2 separate regions of the Homo sapiens genome follow, and region 2 is linked to region 1. Evidence: fine-mapped expression QTL. A gene starts in region 1. The other region holds a variant in brackets. All regions are shown on one strand. Distances are from middle to middle. Region 1 holds the start of PLEKHH2 (pleckstrin homology, MyTH4 and FERM domain containing H2). Region 2 overlaps PLEKHH2 (pleckstrin homology, MyTH4 and FERM domain containing H2).

Region 1 (11,800 bases):
TGCACCATATAGAGAGAGAAGGAGGACTGTTAGCTGTCAGCCGTAATAAGATTCTGTACCAGAATGGCTGCCTTTGCCTGGTAGGTACTGACCCCAAGCAAGAAAAATAATCTGTTCACATTTAACACCTTTTTACTGTCTGGATCACTGTTTTCTTGTGTGATTTTCTTTTTCTTTCTTTCTTTTTCTTTTTTTTTTTTTTTTGAGACAGAGTGTGACTCTATCACCCAGGCTGGAGTGCAATGGTGAGATCTCAACTCACTGCAACCTTCACCTCCTAGGTTCAAGTGATTCTCCCTGCCTCAGTCTCCTGAGTAGCTGGGATTACAAGGGCATGCCACCACGCCTGCCTAATTTTTTTTGTATTTTTAGTAGAGATGGGGTTTCACCATGTTGGCCAGGCTGGTCTTGAACTCCTGACCTCGTGATCCGCCCTCCTTGGCCTCCCAAAGTTCTGGGATTACAAGCGTGAGCCACCCTGCCCAGCTTTCCTGTGTGATTTTAATGTCCAGTGTCTTTTTTTCTTTTTTTTAACTTCATGGGTCCTGAACAAACTATTACTGGCTCTCCCTCAGTCTGGTTCAACAATTCTTTTCCTCTTTTCAGTTGCCTTAAAATAAGTGGTGCTCAAAGTACCCACCTCTGTGCTTTTGTTATGCTTCTGTACACACTTGTTTTCTTTTCATGACCTTAGCAATGCCCATTAGTCTCTCACCTTCACCAGTTCTGGCACCACCTATGCTACCCCCAACCAATCTGTGATAGTGGGGGCCCAGCTCACCTGGGGAGGTGAGATTGAAGCAAATCCTGCCTTCGTTGCAGACCCAAAGGACTGAGCAAGCCAGTATGCTCTGGACACTGGGGACACATCAAAGAAACTGTTTTCCTGGTCCACCCCCACTGGGAGGGCCAGGATGCTTGTCTGTCTCCTTGTTTGTAGGGCCTCCTTCATGCCAAGGCTTTTCTGGTCTCCTAGGTTGCAGGTAAACAGCCTGGAGTGCCCAGACCTGTACCCTCCTCAGCTAGAGAGAGCTGTTCCTGCTAGCTCTATTCATTTTTCCAAATCTTCCCCTTGTCTTTGATATCTTTTCCCAGGTGCTGGGGTTTATACTTTCTCCGTGCCAGAAGCCACAAGCTTATTCTAGTGGAGATAGTGTCTCCGCCCTCCTTCTTTCTTTTTGGATTTTATGTGTGGTGGATTAAAGGATCAGATACTTATTCCCTGATATTTACCCAGCTCCGTACCTCTTTTCCCTTCAACCCCTCTGTCCTTGCTCCCAATGTGCCAAATGGCCACATGGCCAGCAATCATTCTACAATTTACAGTAATCTCCCCCTATGCAGAAGTATACGTTGAAATGTACACCCAAATTCAAACCTTCTCCCCAGCTCAGCCTGACTGATTTTCTCTTGGCTCTCTCCTGGATATTTCACTCGCACCTCAAGTTGTGCTCAGTACCTCCAAGCCAGATCTCATTCTTCTTGTTCCCTCTCCTTGCTTCCTTACTTTTGTAAATGGCACCATCATTTCCTGATAATGCAGACACAAAGCCTCCCTTCTAATCCGCCTTCTAATCAGCTGTTAGACCTTGTAGGTTCAATTTCTTGAAAGAAGTTGAGATGTATAAACAGTTCCTGATTTACGGTGGTTTGACTTATGATTTTTGCTAGATACTGGATATACATTAAAGAGCAAAAACAGTTGTTCTACTTTTCTGGCACTTACAGTCTTGTGGGGGGGAAAACAGACAAAATAATCACAAATAAACATAATATCACAATTTAGATTAATGCTTATAAAACAAAGGTGCCTATTGCTACTAACATTTTCTATCCCTGCTACCTAACGTAAAAACACAAAATTCAACATGTTTTTCTTTTTTAAAACATCTTTATTGAGATATAATTCAATAACATCCAGTTTATCCATTTAAATTGCGTATGTCCATGGCTTTTTGTATGTTCAAAGTTGTGTAATCATCACCATAAATGTTTTTATTATCGCAAAAATAAACCTCACTTGTCTTAGCCATCACCCCGATCCTTCCCAGCCCTAAGCAACCACCAATCCACTTATGTCTCTATGGATTTGCCTGTTCTGAACATTTCATGTAAATGGGATCCTACAGTATGTGCCTTTTAAATGACTGGCTTCTTTCATTAAGTATAATGTTTTCAAGGTTTATCAATGTTGTAGCATGTATCAGTACTTTATTTCTTTTTACCACTGAATAATATTCCATTGTACCATGTGTTTTTCTCAGCATAGACAAAGATAGGATGCTGTTCCGCTGTATTCTCCATACCCAGACAAATTCAGTTTGTCATGTTTCTAGAAAAAGGTGACAGTAAGTAAATATTGGCTAAGCCTTACAAGGGTGGCAGCCGTGTTTACAAAGCGGCTTTTCATGAGTGACTTTATTCACTCAGTTCTTTTAGTCTAATTAGTATTTCTGACTCACAAACGGAAGTGATTCTATTTTGGCATTCTTTCTCTCTTTCTCCTGCTTGGTCTCTACTGACTTGCTGTGTTAAATTATGCAAGTTACTGAAACTCTGTTTGTTTAACTCCTGCGTGCTCTATAAAATAAGCCCAGTCCAGTCTGCTTGTTTGCCAAAGCTGTTTGAAGACAATTTTTCATATGATATGCATCATCAGCTCCCACAGAAGGCAAAAGGAATTTGATGTGTGGGGGTAGTCTGGGATCCTGTTCAAAATTAATGCTCATCTGGAAGAAATATGAAAGCCTGATACTTGCTTACTGGACTTTTAGTTGTATTCACTTATTGCTTTTCCTCTGAGAAACTTTGAAAATCTTTATCTCTTTTGTGGTTTTTTCTTTCCTTTTTTTTGAGACAGAGTCTTGCTCTGTCACCCAATCTGGAGTGCAGTGGTGCGATCTCAGCTCACTGCAACTGCTGCCTTCCTGGCTCAAGCGATTCTCCTGTCTCAGCCTCCTGAATAGCTGGGATTACAGGCGTATGCCACCATGTTCAGCTAATTTTTGTATTTTTAGTAGAGATGGGGTTTCGATATGTTGGCCAGGATGGTCTCAAACTCCTGACCTCAAGTCATCTGCCCGCCTTGGTCTCCCAAAATGCTGGGATTACAGGCATGAGCCACTGTGCCCATCCTCTGTGTGTGTGTGTGTGTGTGTGTGTGTGTGTGTGTGTGTGTGTGTGTGTTTTATATAAGATGAGATAAAGTTAAAAAAAAAAAGATTGTAGTAGAAAAAGTTTTTCTGATACTCTCTATTGGCCAACTGTGAACCAAAGAGAATAATCTGTCTGACCTAGCTTTGTGACCTGGGGAACGATTATCCATAACATTCAGAATTCTCTTTATTTTACCCTGAGATTGACCTCTCCAGACCCTAAGTTGGGATGTAAAATTCACCTGGATTTAAATTATCACTAATTTACTTATGCAATATGCTCTGTGCTGAGGAGAATGCAAAAAAAAAAAAAAAACCACAAATCCTTGTTTTCAAAGTGCTCACAGTCTAAAAGAGATGTGAGGAGCTGTGCATAAGGCAGAGGGAGCTAAGCCCCAAGAGAGGCAAAAATCTAGATGTTCAGGGAGCAGAAACCAGAGAAGACCTTTTTTTTTTTTTTTGTCTCAGATGGAGTCTTGCTCTGTAGGCAGGCTAGAGTGCAGTGGTGCTATCTTGGCTCACTGCAACCTCCGCTTCCCAGGTTCAAGCGATTCTCCTGCCTCAGCCTCCCGAGTAGCTGGGACTACAGTCGTGCACCACCACGCCCAGCTAATTTTTGTATTTTTAGTACAGACCAGGTTTCACCATGTTGGCCAGGATGGTCTCGATCTCTTGACCTCGTGATCTGCCCTCCTCGGCCTCCCAAAGTGCTGGAATTACAGGCATGAGCCACTGCGCCCGGCCCAGAGACGACATTTCTGCCAGGTGGAGCGACAGACATAGTTACATGGAGAAGATGATGATGATGATGATGATGATAATGATGATGATTTGAGACAGGATCTCGCCCAGTCGCCCAGGATCCAGTGCAGTGGCATGATCGCGGCTCACTGCAGCCTCCATCTCCTGTGTTTAAGCAATCCTCCAGCCTTAGCCTCCTGAGTAGCTGGGACTACAAGTGAGCGCCACCAAGCCCAGCTAATTTTTTTTTTTTGTGTGTATATATATATATATATATATATATTTTTTTTTTTTTTTTGGTAGAGACAGGGTTTCACCATGTTGCCCAGGCTCGTCTCGAACTCCTGGCCTCAAGTGATCCACCTGCCTCGGTCCCCCAAAGTACTGGGATTACAGGCGTGAGCCACTGCGCCCGGTGAGAAGATTATTCTGAGCTTTTTGAAGTGGAGACAGGAAATAGCATGTAAACGCTCCTAGTGCCACTTCCTTCGGGTGGCGAGGTGCACAGCAGTAGTCTCAGGTGTGTGAAGGGCAGCTGTGAGAAATAAACCTGAAAAGACGGGATGGAGACCTTGAACACTAGACTAGGGAATCTGTTCTTGATAATTTAAGCAAACGGAAGCCAATGAAAGTCTTTGGCACACTGTTCATCAAAACTGCTCTTAAGGAAATTAACCTGGCAGGAAGATGAAGGGTGGATTGGCAAGAGGAGAGACTTCAGACTGGGAGACCAAGGGAGGGTGCTGCAACAGTCCAGGCAGACGGAGTGGAATGAAGGTGACCGGCCGCTGCAGCAAGCTCTGGAGTCTCGCAGTTGGGACGTTAGGGGTACCACTCCAGGACAGAGCTCCCTCCTGGGGCAGGGACTGGGAGGAGCCAAAGTTATAGCCACACCCCCGGTGACGCCCGGTGGTCGGCTGTGGTCTCCCATTGGCTACACCGGCTGCCAGTCCCTGGAGGAGGCGGTGCCCTTCCCCGCCCTCTCCGAGCTCGGCTTGAGGCGGGCGCGGGCTGAGAGTCCGGGGATCCCGGGGGCCAGTCGCGGCCGGGACATCGGGCGCTGCGGCCGGGGACCCGCTGCTGAGATAGACAGGTGAGAAAGCCCGGGGACGAGGGGCCACTCCAGAGTTCCTGCCACCCTGGGATCCCCGCCCCCTTGAGGGCGCCCCGTCCAGGGGGGCTCGCGGGGCCGAGGTTTGGGGCGCCGGGAGGAGCGGGAAGGCGGGGACGAGAGGGACGGAGCGGGCTGACTCGGGATCCGCCGCTGCACCTCCCGCCACAGCCCAGAGTCGGCCCCCAAGTCTGGATGTCGCCGGGAGAGGTGGGCAGGGGGCGGTGGCCGGCGGTCCCTCGCGCCCGTGGGCTCCCGTGACGTTCTGTTTGGAAACACTGGGCCCGGGCTTCTGGCGCGGCGCGAGCGGTCCCGGGGGCGCAGCGGGGCAGCCCAGGGTCCCCGAGCCGAGGGACCCGCGCGGTCAGGGATGCCGCGCTCGCCTTAGGCTTCGGGAGATCCACCAGGATCTCCGGGGCGAAACTTTAAACTCAAAACTTTAAAGAAGCATTTTGTACACCTCGAGTTGCTGGCACGTCAAAGCACCCTAAGGTGACCTACCCGGAAACCACTGTCCCCGAAGTTAGTGGGGCACTTTTTAAAGGACAACACTTTTTACCCGTCGATATTGTTGTGCGTAACGCTGTGGAAATAGAAGTCGAACCACTTACATTGGAAAAGCTCTGGTGGTGGGCTACCTGAGGGTCACTGCTTTCTTTGTGAAAATGCCAGTCTTGGAAGCCTGGCCCGCACAGCGGTGTGTCCCAGAGGAGTATGTAGTGAGGAGCTCGGCTGTTCTGGGCAGGGTCACCGAAGGGCAGGCGTTGCCCAAGTGGGGCTAGGTGGCTAGGTGGTGGTCAGAAGGTTCCTTAAACAAGGCATGCCTCAGTCTCGTCGAGAAAGATCTTTTAACACACACACACACACACACACACACACACACACACACACTCACACACACGATTACCCAGCCCAGTTAAGCTGTCCCTTAAGAGGCAAAAACTAAAGAATATCATAGAGACTAACGCTGCGCTTCATCAGGGTAAGCCTAAGTAGAATAATTCTTTCATTTCTTTTTCTTTCCTTTTTGGGATTTGGAAGAGAAACAGGAAGTCAGAGATTCAGAGAAAAGAGCATTCACTCCACAATTGTAAACAGTTTATCTTATGTCAGTAAATACTTCCAAAAATCACTGGGGGTATTTGGAACTCCAAGACTTTTTCCTGTCCCCTGAAGTGAAGATAGATTATTTTCAAATGCAGAATCTAGACATGATAGATTCCTTTCAAATTCAGAATCTATATGTGGTATTTTCTTTATTTAGCAGTCGGCTATGTTATATAGTTATATATATATTCCCAATGTTATATAGTTCTATAACATTAGTGGTAATGAAAAGGATGGCGGATATTGTTTAAAATTAGAATTTTTAACTACCCAAGATGGTGCACTAATACAACAGTTGCTTTGTACTTGTTAACTAACTGAAATTACAGAATGAAATGAGGGAATCAGGTGTCTGGATCTCAGTGCAGACCATTATCCAACCAATTTGCAGTTCTGATTTATTATGACCCATTAATAGGGAATGTAGATGTTAAATGCCAATTTAATAATATTCTTAAGGCTTTGCTACTTCACTATAAAATATATAATTAGCATAACTAAAGAAATAGGTATGTTTGACTTTGAATTAATTTATTATGTCATCATAGCAAAGTGCGCTAGGTAAGATATATGTATGATACTTTTCATATTTGGGGTTAACAGTTACCTCTCAATTTTTTGAGCTAATTGTGAAATTCTTGGCAGGGATAACCACAAATAATGGTTGATTAAATTTGTAAATGCAGTCCTAGTATACATCCATTTAAACTGCGACTTTTTCTTTAGTCATTTGTAAATATGTGATCTTTTTTATTGAGATCTTAATATAAGTCACAAACTATAAGATTTTTCCTTTTAAAGTATACAGTTCACTGGGTTTTGGTATATTCACAAGGTTGTATAGCCATCACCAATATCTAATTCTAGAATATTTTCATCACCCCAAAAAGAAACCCCCTATCCATTGTAGTCAGTATCTGCTACCTTCTCCTCACAGCCCTTGGCAACCACTAACCTACTTTCTGTCCTTTGGATTTGCCTCTTATGGACATTTCATGTAAATGGACTCATACAATATGTGGCCTTTTGTGTCTGGCATCTTTCACTTAGCATAATGTTTTCAAGGCTCTTCCATGACTATAGCGTGTATTAGTACTGTATTCCTTTTTTATGGCCGAATAATATTCCATTGTATGGATGTACCACTTTTTTTTTTTTTTTTTTTTTTTTGAGACAGAGTCTCACTCTGTCACCCAGGCTGGAGTGCAATGGCAGGATCTCAGCTCACTGCAACTTCTGCCTCCTGGGTTAAAGCAATTCTCCTGTCTCAGCCTCCCTAGTAGCTGGAATTATAGGCCTGCACCACCATGCCTGGCTAATTTTTGTATTTTTAGTAGAGACGGGGTTTTGCCATGTTGGCCAGGCTTGTCTTGAACTCCTGACCTCAGATGATCCACCTGCTTTTGCCCTACAAAGTGCTGGGATTACAGGAGTGAGCCACTGCACCCAGCCAGATCTACTACATTTTATTCATTCATCTGATGGTGGACACAGGCTGTTTCTACTCTTTGGCTATCATGAATAATGTTGCTCTGAACATTTATTTACAAGTTTTGGTGTGGATGTGTATTTCATCCCTTGGCATATGACCCCATCCCTTGGCATATGACCCAGCAACTCCAATGCCAAGTATAAAGTTACCAATACTTTATATTGATATACCAAATATAAAGTTACTCCAATAACTTGGTAACTTTATATTTAAACTTTTTTTTTTTTTTGAGACGGTGTCTCACTCTTGTCACCCAGGCTGGAGTGCAGTGTATGATCATAGCTCACTGCTCAAGTGATCCTCCCACACAGGGCTCCCGAGTAGCTGGGACCACAGGTAAGCTCCCCGACGCTTAGCTGATTTTTAAATTTTTTGATAGAGATGAGGTCTTGCTATGTTGCACAGTCTGGTCTTGAACTCCTGACCTCAGAGATGAATTCTCCAACCTCAGCCTCTCAAACTGTTGGGATTACAGGCGTGAGCCACCATGCTGGCCTGTTTAAACTTTTCAGGAACTGTAAAACTGTTTACAAAGCAGCTGTACCATTTTTACATTCCCACCAACAATGTATGAGGGTTCCCATTTCTCTACATCCTCACCAACACTTGTTGTTAGATGTCTTTTTCATTAGAACATCCTATTTGATGTGAAGTGGAATGTTGTTGTGACTTTGATTTGCATTTTCTCTCATAGCAAATAATGTGCTTATTGGCCATTTGTATATCTTCTTTGGATAAATCTCTATTCAGATACTTTGCCCATTTTTATTTATTTATTTTTAATTTATTATTATTATTGTTTTTAAAGATCGGGGTCTCCCTCTGTCGCCCAGGCTGGAGTGCAGTGGTGTGAACATGGTTCACTGCAGCTTCGACCTCCTGGGCTCAAGTGATCTTCCTGCCTCAACCCCCAAGTAGCTGGGACTACAGGCCTGCACCACCATGCCTGGCTAATTTTTTTTTTTTTTTTTTTTTTAATAAAGACAGGGTTTTGCCACCTTGCCCAGGCTGGTCTCAAACTCATGAGCTCAGGCAGTCTAACCGCCTCGGCCTCCCAGAGTGCTGGGATTATAAGCATGAGCCACCACGTCCAGGCCTTTGCCCATTGTTTAATTGGGTTATCTTTTTTTATCGTTGAGTCCTAAGAGTCCTTTATATATTCTAGACACAAATCCCTGAGATACATGATTTGCAACTATTTTTCCCATTCTGTGGGTTATCTTTGCACTTTCTTGATAGTGTCCTTTGAAGGACAAAAATTTAAAAATTTTTATGAAGTCCAATTTATCTATTTTTTCTTCGATTCCTTGTGCTTTAGGTGTCATATCTAAGAATCTGTTGCCTAATCCAAGGTCATGAAGATTTATACCTCTTTTCTTCTAAGAGTTTAGAGCAAGCGTGTCCAACCTGTGGCCTGCAGGCCACAGGCAGCCCAGGATGGCTTTGAATGTGGCCCAAAACAAATTTGTAAACTTTCTTAAAGCATTATGAGATTTGTTTTGCAATTTTTTTTTTTAGCTCATCAGCTACCTTTAGTGTTAGTGTATTTTATGTGTGGCTCAAGACAATTCTTCTTCTAACGTGGCCCAAGGAAGTCAAAAGATTGGACACCCCTGGTTTAGAGCTTTGGCTGGTACCTGTAAGTTTGTGATCCATTTTGTGTTACTGTGTATATATGGTATGAGGTATGGGTCCACATTCATTCTTTTACATATGGATATCCAGTTGTCCCAGCATCATCTGTTGAAAAGACTATTCTTTCCCCCATTGGATGATCTTATCACTCTTGCCAAAAATCAATGTGAGGCTTTAATTCTGGACTTAACTTTATTCTGTTTATCTATATATCTATCTTTATGCAAGTACCACACTGTGTAATCAAGCTACTGTATAGCTTTGTAGTAAGTTTAGAAATAGTAACATGTGAGTCCTCCAACTTTTCAATTTTATTTTGTCTATTCTTCAGCCCTTGAATTTCCAGGCAAAGTTTGATCAGCTTGTCAATTTCTGCAAAAAATGCAGTTGCAACTTTGATAGAGATTGCATTGTGTGTATATAGCCATTTGCAAGTATTGCCATCTTCACAATATTAAGTCTTCTAATCCATGAATATACAATTTCTTCCATTTATTTAGGTATTTTTAAATTTCTTTCAGTGATGTTTTGTAGTTTTCAGTGCACACATTTTGCACTTCTTTTGTTAAATTCATTCCTAAATATTTTATTAGTTTTGATGCTATTGTAAATGGAATATTTTCTTATTTTCATTTTTGGATTTTTCCTTGCTAGTGTATAGAAAAACAACTGACTTTTGTATGTTGATCTGATTTCCTGAAACCTTGCTAAACTCTATAGTTTAGTATTTTTTTGTGGATTCCTTAGAATTTTCTATGCACATGATCATGTCATCTGTAAGTAGAGATAGTTTTATTTCTTCCTGTCCAATCTAGATGGTTTTTTATTTTATTGTCTTGCCCTGGCTATTATCTCTATTACAGTGTTGAATAGAAGTGGTGAGAAAAGACATCTTTGTCTTGTTCCTGATTTCAGGGAGAAAACTGTCAGTCATTTATCAGTAAGTATGATGTTAGCTGTGGGCTTTAGTAAACGTCCTCTATCAGGATGAGGAAGTTCCTGTCTATTTGTAGTTTCTTGAATATTTTTATCATGAAGGGGTGTTGGATTTTGTTGAATGATTTTTCTGTGTCTATTGAAATGATCATACGGTTTTTGTTCTTTATTCTTTTCACATGGTGCATTACATTGATTGATTTCAATTTGTTGAAAAATATCCACTCTTCATGTTATTTTTAAAACTGTGGACATTTTACTGTAGGACATAGGCAAGTTATTTTACATGTAGAGCAAAAATTAACCAGTATTAACCTATTAACAAATAGGTAAATAGACTCCTCTTATTCCTTAAGCTAGAAGAGTATCCCTACATTTCTGCGGAATGATATGGTAGTTCAAGACGTAAAGATGCCCCTTTCAGGCCTACTTTTTATTTTCTAGTATTGCATCCATATTTTCTTTCCCTGTTCGCTCTAAAGCTAATAAGGAGAAAAATGAAGCAGCCCCAGAACTGTGAACGTGTTTGTGATCGACAAACTGCATTATCTACTCCTAAATCATTGCTAGTAAATGCCAATGTGAATCATTAATCATAAATGCTAATATGGGTAATGGAAAAGGTTATTAACAAGGTTAATCTCCTTAGGAAAAACCTCAGGAAACAATGGGGCAAGGATTCTATGAAAACAAAGAAATGAAAATAAAATGACTTCCAGCTCTACAGTAATATGTTTCCTTTAAATTAAGGCTAGAATTTGGGGACATCTGAAGGCTTTAAGAAGCTGGGGTGCACTTAATAAATGTTGTAGTCTTTTAAGAACGATTCTGCTTATATTTATTTCTAACGTACTGAATATTGTCAGTATTAATGTGAAAATTGATTTAAGTACAAAACAATCTTCATGCTAGGAAAATAATCTTTTAGTGGGTTTTTAGCAGCATAAAGTTTTTAAAAACTGGTGTAGGATTAGGGAGGATTCTATATTACGCTAAATACTGGGAAAATCAATGTGGTTATATTTTTAGAAAACAAAAGAATAGAATAGTATACTTCAACTGCAGTTCCATTCCAGGGCTCTGAGAGTTTTGCTGTCACCGTTCTTCATAACTGAGGCTTTCCATTCCTAATGTAAATTTCATAGCAGGGCAGTTCATAGCAAGGGGAACTCAGAAATACATTATTAGGCTGCTTATTAAAAATAGCCTGATAAAATATTACCAAACATTTAAAACTACTTTTATGTATCTCAGAGCCAGAAACCATCATGCTTCCAAAATCAAGTAACACTTCAAAATTTCAAAACCAATTCCCTTGCATCTTGTCCTCCCCCTTACAGTGCTTCTCCCTGCAATTAATATCCTCCCAAAGGAAAGTTAATATGGAAAACACTAATTCCAGATTTACTTCATATGGCTAACTCCAAATTGCATGTATATGTGCCTTCTCTTACACCAAATAAAAATTATGCAAACTTGTCAGGATCACAACAACTTACCCTTAAATACGCCAAAGGACCTCTGGCTTGAAAGACTTAACCTGGACCTGGCCAAATTGAGAGTGATGATAAGGAATCATTATAGTAAAAATCCAAACCGTGAATTGTAGCAATTGAATCAAAC
Region 2 (11,800 bases), 72 kb after region 1:
AAGTTTAGAAAAGTGATTTGCATTGCTATTTCATTCGCTAAGAACTTCCTAAATGTCTAAATTCATTGGAATAAAGAGTTGTGTAAACTTTCAAAAAATGATTTCTAGGGTTGCTGATTTGTATTTTAAAATTGAAATTCATCTTAGTGTGGGGACTCAAATACACTCAACTCTGATGTATATTTTTTTACCTGAGAGAGACTAAATCAGAGAAACTGTGGCATTTCAGCTGTTTAAAATGGTAAAAATATAGGCTTCTATGTCCTTTTTTCCCAGAATTTAAAACACATTTCCCCTTTCTTTATTTCTTCCAAAAAATTCTTATGGAAACAATGCATGCTCATTACAAAAAATAAAACCAAACAACAAGAACTGTCTGGAATAACAAGAAATTTTCCTGTGGTTCTTTCTACCACCTCCTCCCTATCCCACCACTAATTCATATGTTAGGGGTAACTATTGATATTCAGTTCCTGTTCAGCTATCTGCAGTTCTTTCCATTCAGGAAATTTTATCCTTTTTTTTTTTTTTTTTTTTTTGAGGCAGCGTCTTACTCTGTCACCCAGGTGGGAGTGGAGTGGTGTGATCATAGCTCACTACCGCCTTGAACTCCTGGGCTCAAGCGATCCTCCTGCCTCAGCCTCCTGATTAGTTAGGATGACAGGTGCATACCACCATGCCTTGATACTTTTTAAGATTTTTTGTGGAGATGGGGGTCTCACTGTGTTGCCCAGACTGGTCTCAAACTCCTGGCCTTAAGCAATCCTCCTGCCTCAGCTTCTCAAGGTGCTAGGATTACAGGTGTGAGCCACTACACTTAGCTAGGAAATTACATTCCAATATTTCAACATCAGATTTACCTGATAAAGGCTTAAGAACAGTGGTTTTGGTTTTGGTTTTTGTTTGAGAACAAGTCTTGCTCTGTCGCCCAGGCTGTAGTGCAGTGGCATGATCTCGGCTCACTGCAACCTCCCCTTCCCAGGTTCAAGCAATTCTTGTGCCTCAGCCTCCCAAGTAACTGAGATTACAGGTGTATGCCACCATGTTTGGTTTTAGTAGAGAAAGGGTTTTGCCATGTTGCCCAGGTTGGTCTCAAACTCCTGGGCTCAAGCGATCCACTGCCTCAGCCTCCCAAAGTCCTGGGATTACAGATGGGAACCACCATGCCCCACCAGAACAGTGGTTTTGATACCATGCTGGTAATAGGGTTATGAATAGTCAGAGAATATCTTCCTATGTACTGCTTACTGAATTGGTTGGTAAGCAGTTGCCTGTACTTAGTTCTGCCCAGCCTGAGCAAAGCATGCATGGAGATTTCAAGGAAATAAAAGCTATGGTTCTTGCTCTCAAAGAGCTTGCAGTCTAGTTGGGGAACTAGCACACATGAGGAAATAATGAACCATGTAAAAAAGTGTATAAATAAACCTGTAAATGCCATAATCTGTAAAGTAGACTATACAGTTAGTAATCATGTATTAATCGAATTGCTTTTTAAATGGAGATTATGCTCATTTGTATTCATAAGAAAAAGACCAATGTGCTAATTAGAAGTTTTTTAAAATGTTGTTTCCTGTTTTTCTGTTTCAGATTCTGCTGCAACCCTTTCCTATACTACATCAGGACTTTATACATCTCTGATATACAAGAACATGACCACCCCAGTGTATACAACTTTGAAGGGGGTAACTCATTATTGTTATTGTTAAAACATGTGCTTCTCTTCATGATGGATCAAGGAAATTGTTAATTCAAGCTCCAGATTCCATTCTTAACATTTTACACAGGCTCTCCCTTTATAGAAAGTTTTACAAGTTCACGTTAACATATCATAAAAAAGAAGGAATGGAAAGGTCTGCAGAAGACACTTATCAGAATGTTAGAGGTCTGAGTCAGTTTTTACTGTGTCCCATGTGATTCCCCCACCTCCCCATGGCCATGAATTGTTTAAAGGAGACATATTATTAATAATGTAATGAAAACTCCTAATTTAGGCAGATCTTTGTATCAGTGCCAGGGTACCCCTTCCTTGCTTGAAGTATTAATTAAAAGAAGGATTGCAGGTATTGACAACCTTATATTTTCAGGCATCTTTTATAATTGCTTATTAGAATTCAGGGTTTAACAACATGATTTTGATAACAGCAAAATACATTCCCAAATTCCTTTTAAAAATCATATGCTGGCTGGGCACGGTGGCTCACGCCTGTAATCCCAGCACTTTGGGAGGCCGAGGCGGGCGGATCACGAGGTCAGGAGTTCGAGACCAGCCTGGCCAACATGGCGAAACCCTGTCTCTACTAAAAATATAAAAATTAGCCGGGCGTGGTGGCAGGTGCCTGTAATCCCAGCTACTCAGGAGGCTGAGTCAGGAGAATCGCTTGAACCTGGGAGGCGGAGGTTGCAGTGAACCGAGATCATGTCATTGCACTCCAGCCTGGGTGACAAGAGCAAGACTCCACCTCAAAAAAAAAAAAAAAAAAAATTCTATGCTATGACTTCTTCCTGTAAAACTTTCTGTTATCTAAAAAGAGTGATAACCTTAGGGATGGATACAGGGAGGTTGCTCTGCTTTTCTTTAGGAGGCGACCCTAATAACTAGCAGCCTTTTCTTGGATGAGTGGTAACATTAGGGATGGATACAGGGAGGTTGTTCCACTTTTCTTTAGAAGGCGACCCAAATAAGTAGCAGCCCTTTCCTGGATGACTCATCTGGGTCAGAGGAAGAAGACAGCTCCAGATCCAGCTCCCGGACGTCAGAGTCAGACTCACGCAGTAGGAGTGGGCCAGGCAGCCCCAGAGCCATGAAACGAGGTGAGGGAAAATCGCAGGCATATGAGGCAACTCCAGATCATTCTGAATATTAATTGGGAATTTTATCTCCATTACAGGATTATTTTTTAAATCCAAGAACTTGCTTCAGACCCTAGTGAAAAGAACTTTAGCCTATGACTGATATGTTTATATTCCTAATTCTCTTCTTAATTCTCTGTGATTTCAGACAAATTATATAGTTTTTTTTTTTCAGCTTTTTATTGTCTGTGAGAGGGAGATCACTTTATTGTTGGAATGAAGTGAGATAATTGGCCAAAATGAGGTTTCTTTCTTGGCATTTGTGAAATAGACTTATTTCAGCTAAAGTTGTTACACTGCTAACTGGCAGAAAATATACCTTAAAATTTGTCAATTAATCTGATGTTAAAGTGGAGAACAACATTTACTTGGAATATGTCTATGATTTTTAGTGGATTTTGAAGACATTCTGTGTGTAGGTAGTGGTTACAGAGAGATCTAATTCCACCAAATGACATCTGTATGTTATAAAAAGCCCTTAATGCAGCATGGTGTGTCTGTTGGCTTTCAAACTGTGTTCCATGGAACCTCTGGATACTTCCAATCCCCTCGGCTTCAACTGGAGCTGCTCAGCCTTCCTTGGTTTCATATTTTGAGCTTCCACTGGTCTTCTTGCTCTCAACTTGCCCCGCTACAGCCAGAATCAGGTTATGACACACTTTTGCTGGAAACACTGCAGTGGCTCCTCACAACGGCTATAAGGTGTTCCAGGATTCGGTCACGTACTTGACCTCATCTCCTTTCTTCTCTGTACTCAGCTCCAGTCTCACTGGCCCTCTTGCTGTTCTGAGACATGCCAGGCATGCTTGCATTTCAGGACCTTGGCACTGCTGTTTCCTCCAGCTGGTATTCTTCCCCTAGATGTCCGTATAGCTGACTCCCTCACCTCCATCAGCAAACGCTGCTTTCTCAATGAGGTCCACCCTGACCACACCACTCAAATTGCAGCCCTTTGTCTTTCTTCTGTTGCCAGCTCTTTTTATTCCCTTTAGTCTGCTCTATGTTTTATTGTTCCATACCACCTACTGCCTGTTTGTCAGTGGTCTCCTTCCGCTAGAATTTGTTCCACGAGAGCCAATATTTTTGTTGTTTGCTCTATCCCTAGCATCTAGGACAGTGCCTGGCACACTGGCCCTGGTCCTGGGAGCCTGAGACTTGTGTTCCAACATTGCCCCTGCCTAACTCTTTGACTTTGGACAAATCCTTTAATCTCTGGGCCTTAGTCTCCTTGGGCCTTAGCCATGACAATCACTGAGGTCCCTATAGGTCTACATTTTTGTTTATTCTATGAAAAATGAAGATATTATAGCAACTGTTACTTGTCTGAGTCAAATAAAAAGCAGTGTCACAAGAGTGGCATTGTTCTAATATGTCCCTTAAATGTTAATACATATTTTTAAAAATTGCTGGATACTTTTATAAATAATTACCTAAGTCCTTGATTTTATTTAATATATTCTAAATCTCCAATTGTAGTGACTCATGAAATGTGGCTTGCAACTCCCAGGTAGTTTTCTGTAAAGGCAAATGAATCATTGTATAAATGTTCCATTGAATTTTATGTTATAGCTGCTGGCAAGTGAAAGAAATAGTTTGTTTATATCTTTCAATCTTATTGTTTCTCTTTTATGAAATATTTTTAAAATCTGTAAACTGCTTAGTAGCTTATGGAACTTGAATGAAAAAATACTACTGAATTGTGTTTTTTTAAAATGTGAGGTTACTTTAAAAGTGATTACAGAAGTTAAGAAATTTAAAATGTGATTGTGAAAATCTTGATAAATTAAGGTTCAACATTTGTTTGCCTATATGTCAATGTGTAAATACACATATTTTTAATTCTTAATAAAATATACATGAGTAGACTCTTGCATATATTTTATATATGTAAAATAGCTGTGTGATTGTAATCATACCAAAATATTATTCCTGTTCCTTTCACTTCCTTAGAGATTTACATGACAGTCCCTACCTCTTAGTTCTGTTTTCTGCTTTAAAAGTTCTTCATGTTGGGAGGCCAAGGCAGGCGGATCACGAGGTCAAGAGATCGAGACCATCCTGGCCAACATGATGAAACCCCATCTCTACTAAAGATACAAAAATTAGCTGGGCGTGGTGGCGCACACCTGTAGCCCCAGCTACTCGGGAGGCTGAGGCGGGAGAATCGCTTGAACCCAGGAGGCAGAGGTTGCAGTGAGCCGAGATTGTGCCAGTGCACTCCAGCCTGGTGACAGAGCGAGACTCTGTCTCAAAAAAAGTTATTTATGGCCAAAGGAATGAGAATAAATCTAGTCTAGGGAGGCTTATGATTTAGGAATAATTGCATTCTGTAGGAGCACTCAGAGCTGGTGTTTGGCCCTCCCCAGTATTAAATACTGACTTGATTTCTTTCTTTGTTCTCTTAGGTGTGTCTCTCTCCTCTGTGGCTTCTGAAAGTGATTATGCTATTCCTCCTGATGCTTACTCCACAGACACGGAGTACTCACAGCCAGAGCAGAAGCTCCCAAAAACTTGCTCATCTTCCAGTGATAATGGGAAAAATGTAAATATTGAATATGATTTTTAAAAAGCAGTCAGTCAGATTGAGCCTCCAAAAGGAAACTGAAAATGCTTTTGTCTATCTTTTAAAAATTAGGAACCACTGGAAAAATCTGGTTATTTATTAAAAATGAGTGGTAAAGTCAAGTCTTGGAAGCGGCGGTGGTTTGTTCTTAAAGGTGGTGAATTACTTTACTACAAATCTCCGGTGAGTGGAAAGTGTTTTCTGTTTAGAACGTAATTCCTCAAACTATAAATCAGACGCCTGATTGATTTCCTTCCCATAATGCAAGTAATGATACAAAGCATTCCTTATTATTACTGTTAAAGTTAATCACTTTCCATTTGTTTTTCTGTTTCATACAGAGTGATGTAATTAGAAAACCCCAGGGCCATATTGAACTTAGTGCATCCTGTAGTATTTTAAGAGGAGATAACAAACAAACAGTTCAGGTACTTAACTTTTTTTTTTTTTTTTTTTTTTTTGTATCATGCCAGACTCAATTCTCAATTATCCAACCTAATGGAAAGGAGATAGGATAATTCAGTGTTTCTTTATTCACTTTGGGGGGTTAGTTTGATGCCTTGGAAGTATGTGAAACTCCACGAATTTTTGGTTAAAACTATAATGTAAGTTAGGTGTGTGTTGAGTAACTCCCACCACACTTTACCTTTCTTCCTTTATACTCTTCTTTCCTCATATTTAATCTCCTAGGTATTTTCAGCTGTCCAACTGTGAAGCTATTTTAAGGAAGGGTTATCTGGTAAATGAATTCTCAATAAGATGTTAGTTATATAATGTACTGTGAAATTCAGGAATGTTTGTATTTTAATATAGAATCTGAAAATGACAGTTCTTATATGAACTTCAGATGCCATAACACCAAAGTGGGAAATATATTGGTGAGCAGAGGGAGTGTGCTGCCAAGCAAGTCACACTGTAGGGGCAGCTGCTGCCCATTTTACTCACACATAAGGCCAGTCTTGCCAGAAATCTGTTAAATTTAAAACACAGGCTGTTGAGATATTCTAGTATATGTAATTTAAAGTCAGACACTTTATTTCTGAAATGTCTTCAATAACCATTATTTTCTTATATTGCTCCTTTGGAGGGTGGAGGACAACTTTGCCAGAAAGGTACATTATCAATGTTTCCAGTGATTTGTACCTGAAAACCTCTCAAAAATTTAGAAAGGAGAATCAAGGAAAGCTTTGTCTTTGGGCATGGCAGTTAAGAATCATTTGTAAGTTTCTGAAATTTGGAAAATTTGCAGTGTGGCTAATTTGAGACTGGAA[C/A]ATTCTGAGTTCATAATATCTAATCACATGTTCGTTCCAATAATTTATCTTCTTATATGCAAGATCTTCTTATTTTATTTATAGTTGATTTTGTCATTTGTATTAAGAAACCTCTTCTTTAGTTGCTAAAACTATGCTATTTTATTATAGTCTTTAATCATTCTGCTCCTCATTTCAATAAGTAGGAACCTGGCCGGGCGCGGTGGCTCACGCCTGTAATCTCAGCACTTCAGGAGGCTGAGGCAGGCGGATCATGAGGTCAGGAGATCGAGACCATCCTGGCTAACACGGTGAAACCCCGTCTCTACTAAAAATTCAAAAAAAATTATCCGGGCATGGTGGCAGGTGCCTGTAAGTCCCAGCTGCTCGGGAGGCCGAGGCAGGAGAATGGTGTGAACCCAGGAGGCGGAGCTTGCAGTGAGCCAAGATGGCGCCACTGCACTCCAGCCTGGGCGACAGAAAGAGACTCTGTCTCAAAAAAAAAAAAAAAAGAAAAGTAGGAACCTGTAACACATTTAAGCAAGAAAGGGAAAATGTGACAAATAAACAAGATATAAAATCATAACCCCAAAATTAGGTAAACTGGAGTAACAAAGTTATTTCCACAAAAATTTAATTGCTGTAATTCTCACAAAGTGGTTAAAATATTCTAACTGATATGGAGTCATTTATTTAGAAACTGGGACTTGAGATTTAGCATGTTTGCTTCTGTGTTAAGTAATGACGTTTGAATAATGAACAAGGAAATGCTAACAATCCTAAATCTTCACAGTTTTCTTTCCTATACCTTTCTCGTTGCATTCTAGTTGACCACTGAAAAACACACATACTATCTGACTGCAGATTCTCCCAATATATTGGAAGAGTGGATTAAAGTGTTACAGAATGTTCTTCGAGTACAAGCTGCCAACCCACTTTCCCTGCAGCCTGAGGGCAAACCCACCATGAAGGGATTGCTCACTAAGGTAGGAACCTCCTGTGCATAGCAATGTCCCAGGCAGCTATGGGCATGAGCCCATGATCGCTGAAAATGGGATGTCAGAGCATATACATATATTGAATATTGATATGATCTTGGGGATAGGAAAGGGTGTTTTTAAGTATGATGCCCAAGGCAAAAACTATAAAGATGAAAAGAAGACAAATTTGACTATAATATGTAAAAATGTAAAGGCTCTATTAAAAATTCTACGAGCAGAATTTTTAAAAGAAGGATTGAAAAACTTTGAAGAGGTATTTGAAACATGTGAAAACTGGTTAATATCATTAATATTTAACACGTTTTTTTCTAATCAGTAAGCAAACAATGAACACCAATTGGGGGAAAAGGAACAAAAGACTCAATGGGCAGGAAAGAGAGATCATCGAGGTTAGAAGGAATACAAATGATCAATAAGCATATGGAAAAACATTTTACTGTCACTCAATTTTTTTAAAAGCACAGATTGAAATAAGAGGTGGCACTTTTTAAAATCTGGTGAAAAGTAAGACGTTTTTACAAATTTTGAAACCTAGTATTGACACAGATTAAAAAATCTGCTAGTTTCTGCAATTACATAGGCAGTAGAAAAAAAAAGAAATCTGCTAGTGAGAGCATTACTCTAAAAGGCAGTTTGGCAATATCTTGGCTGAAGTGTTAACTTAGCCAATAATTTTGAGTGAACAAATCAATATCAAATCAACACACACACACACACACGCATATATATCTCCTTTGATCCAGCAATCTCAGTTTTAAAAATTTATCCTTAGGAAGTGGTCTTAATTTGCAAAAGATTTAATTATGAGATGTTCCTCACAGCATGTTTTTTTTCCTATTTTAAAAAATGAGGTATGATTAATATATCTGAAATGCACAGATCTTAAGTGTAGAGTTTGACTAGTTTTGAAAGCTATTTACTTTTGACTCTATCAAGATGCAGAACATTTCCATTACCCCAGAAAGATTCCTTGCACAGCATGGTTCATAATAAAGAAAAATTGGGATCAAATTAGATGTAGGGTAAGGTATAGCTTTAAAAAATGTTTGTACAACCATATAATGCTTTACTATGCAGCCTTTTAAATGTTGTAAAAGAATATCTAATGCTATAGAAATATGATGTATTGTTAGGTAATAAGTAGAGTGCAGTATTACATTATTATACCTTATTTGTTGTAAGTATTTATAGAAAAATGTCTGGGAAATATACCAAAGTATATTGGTTATCTCTGTGATTTTATTTATTTTTGCTTAATTCTGTTTTTTTTTTTTTTACAATGAGTAAGTATTGACTTAATATTATTTTTAAGTTTTAAAAAGTCCTATTGGTCACTTTTTGAAAAATACAACAAAATATGTATACACACATAATCACTCCTCATTCATGTACTCTGATTATGTAAGAGGTGGAAAATTAGATGGAAAGTAACTATGCTACTGTGTAGTTTATACTTATTATTAATGTGGGAATGTAGGTGGGTGTTATTCCATAATATTTAAAAAGACTGACCAACTATAGCAAAGGTAAAACTTAATTCACTATTGCATTAAACAAAGAAATATACTATGTACTATGTTTTTTCTAAAATACGACTGTGAAAATGTTTTCTTAGTTACTGATGGGTTAGGGAACAAAATATTTGCACAATACTTTTCCAGTGAACACACTGCTACTTTAAATCACATTCTTACTATAATTCATAATAATGAGCTATGCTCTTGTTTCAAGGACCTCATATGCATATCAAACCCTGAGAGTTTAAGATGATCCCATGGCTAAGGGTTTATTACTTCCCCCACAATTAGGATTTTGTTTGCTTGCTTGTTTTTACTTTATCAGCAAGGCATGTCAGTTTCTGCTCCTATAACATTTCTGCGATTCTCCACTTCCCATTTCACAATTGCATTTTAAATGAGTATGAGTCGATGGGATTCTCAGATGACTAAATCATTAGGGTTTATAGCCAGGATGCTTATTAAGTTTCCTTCCTGCCATTTGTGCTTGTCCACCCCCATATTTTCACCCTTAGAACCTTATGAGAGAACAGCTTCCCTCAGTTATTCTGAGTGACTTGTTCTGAGCTCACATTCAGGCTGCAATATGAGATACTGTCAAATTGCATTTGAATACCTTGGAGGGGAGGAAGTTTTCTCAGGTTGTCACATTGTTTTTATTAAGTACAGAATAATATAGGTAGATGCTAAGAACTTGACTAATTTGATTCTAGACAGTCACTCTTGCAATTTTTATTTTAATGCTTAGGAAAAACATTTTCTATATAAAAATTCAGTTCTTTAAAAAACGAAAATGTATTACGCAGTTACCACATGCAGCACAATGTGCTGAAAGATACTAAGATGAATAGGCCACTGTCCCATTCCTCAGAGAGCCTCATAATCTATTAAAAAAGAGGGAGACAAAAGCTTATTTACAATGATATAAAGTACAATTATTGAGATGTGTCAGTAATGACTTCTGAGAGAAGATTTACCTGTGCCGAGTCTTCAAGGAGGAGTAGGAGTTAGTTATACCAAGTGGGAATGGGTGGAGGGGTGGTACTCTAGGCTAGGAGACAGCGCGAATGAAGGCTTAGAGTCTTGAAGCAGTGGCTTATGCCTGTAATCCCAGCACTTAGGGAGGCTGAGGCAGGCAGATCACCTGAGGTCAGAAGTTCGAGACCAGCCTGACCAACATGGTGAAAACCCGTCTACTAAAAATACAAAAATTAACCAGGCATGCTGGCGGGCACCTGTAATCCCAGCTACTCGGGAGGCTGAGGCAGGAGAATCGCCTGAACTTGAGAGATGGAGGTTGAAATCAGCTGTGATTGCAATGTTGCACTCCAGCCTGTGCGACAAATGAAACTCCGTCTAAAAAAAAAGAAAAAAAGAAAAAAAAAATCTCGAAGCAGTGCCAGCTGCACTAGGAACAAGTCCTTTGGAGAAAAAGCTAGAGGGGCCTATGGATGGTGGAAAGCTATTTTTGTCTTTTTAAGGACTTTGGTCTTTATCCTGAAGGATATTTGAAACCCTGCAGGGTTTGTAACAGGAGCATGGGCATATTCATGTTGCTAACAGATTACTCTGCTAAGAGGAAGATGAATCAGTGGGAGGCAAGGTGGAGGTTCTAAGAACAGTTAAGGGAGTGGTTCCTATGAAGAGGATGAAACTCTGAAGGGGTTACAGGAAAAGAGAGGAGAGGATGAATTTAAATAATGGTAAGAGGTAAAATCTTTAGTTTGATTGAATTTGGGGTTAGGAAGTAGAAGAGATAAAGATGCCTGGTAGAAAGATGATAGCAGATAAGAGAGAGCTCAGGAAAGAGGAGCAGTTTTAGGAAGATTAGGTGATTTTGGAAGACATCAGGAGCTGGTAGGATGTCTTAGTTAAAAAGTCCAGCAGGCAGCAGACCACCAGTCTACATCGGAGAAGAGTGCTGGAGGGCTGGATTGGAGAGAAGGATTCGAGGAATCATCAGCATACATGTGGCAATTATGGGAAATTATGTAGGGCAGGGGAGAGCAGGGTAACACTTGTAAATTTAAGGGCACAGTAAGGAGATGTGTGCAGAGGTCTGAGAGTAATGCCTGTGACTGATCTAGTGTCACATGTGCTCAGAGAAGAAGGTACGTTGCCTTCAGTGGGTTGAAGGGTAAATGGGAGATTAATAAGTGAAGTATTTGAGTTTCAAGGACTATCTATACCTTTCAGTATGTTAGAATCAAGCTGGAGGGAACCTGGAGTCAGGAGAGGCATTTTTTAGGGTGGAAAAGATGTACCTTGAGTTCACAAACTAAGGGGAAGGCCCCTGGAAGAAGGGAGGAGGGGGATTAAAGACAAAGTCCAGAAGAAGTGGGTGGCTGGACATAGTGGGAAGGCACACTGGAAGGGCTGAAACTGGAGGAAAAGTGAGGAAGGGTGCAGAAAAGTATCTTAAGTTTGTAGGACATTGAGTGATATCATGTCTAATATCCTCAGTTTTCTTAATGAACATTATTCCGTACGACAATGTTATTTACTAAGAGTGGGGAAAAGGGTGGAGAATAATCATTCAGGAAAGTAGGATGTACCCAAGGATAAATAGAAGGCTTGGTAAGTATTATTGAAGGCCCACCAGACTTTCTGATTTGAGTT

Evidence for each region.
Region 2: its variant is fine-mapped to the expression of PLEKHH2 in thyroid (GTEx, PIP 0.98). The same link has a PIP of 0.9 or more in esophagus muscle and tibial nerve.

What each region holds. Positions count from the first base shown.
Region 1 is chr2:43,632,391-43,644,190 of GRCh38, forward strand. It overlaps PLEKHH2 (pleckstrin homology, MyTH4 and FERM domain containing H2), which reads left to right and starts at 4,870. Exons shown (of 30, transcript NM_172069.4): 1 at 4,870-4,989. RefSeq lists a silencer at 4,774-5,103.
Region 2 is chr2:43,704,735-43,716,534 of GRCh38, forward strand. It overlaps PLEKHH2 (pleckstrin homology, MyTH4 and FERM domain containing H2), which reads left to right. Exons shown (of 30, transcript NM_172069.4): 10 at 1,588-1,682; 11 at 2,667-2,811; 12 at 5,256-5,392; 13 at 5,486-5,596; 14 at 5,755-5,841; 15 at 7,491-7,649. Among named protein-coding and RNA genes, the nearest start is that of C1GALT1C1L, 34 kb to the left of the region's middle. RefSeq lists a silencer at 10,291-10,490. The variant C/A (reference allele first, on the strand shown) is at 6,685.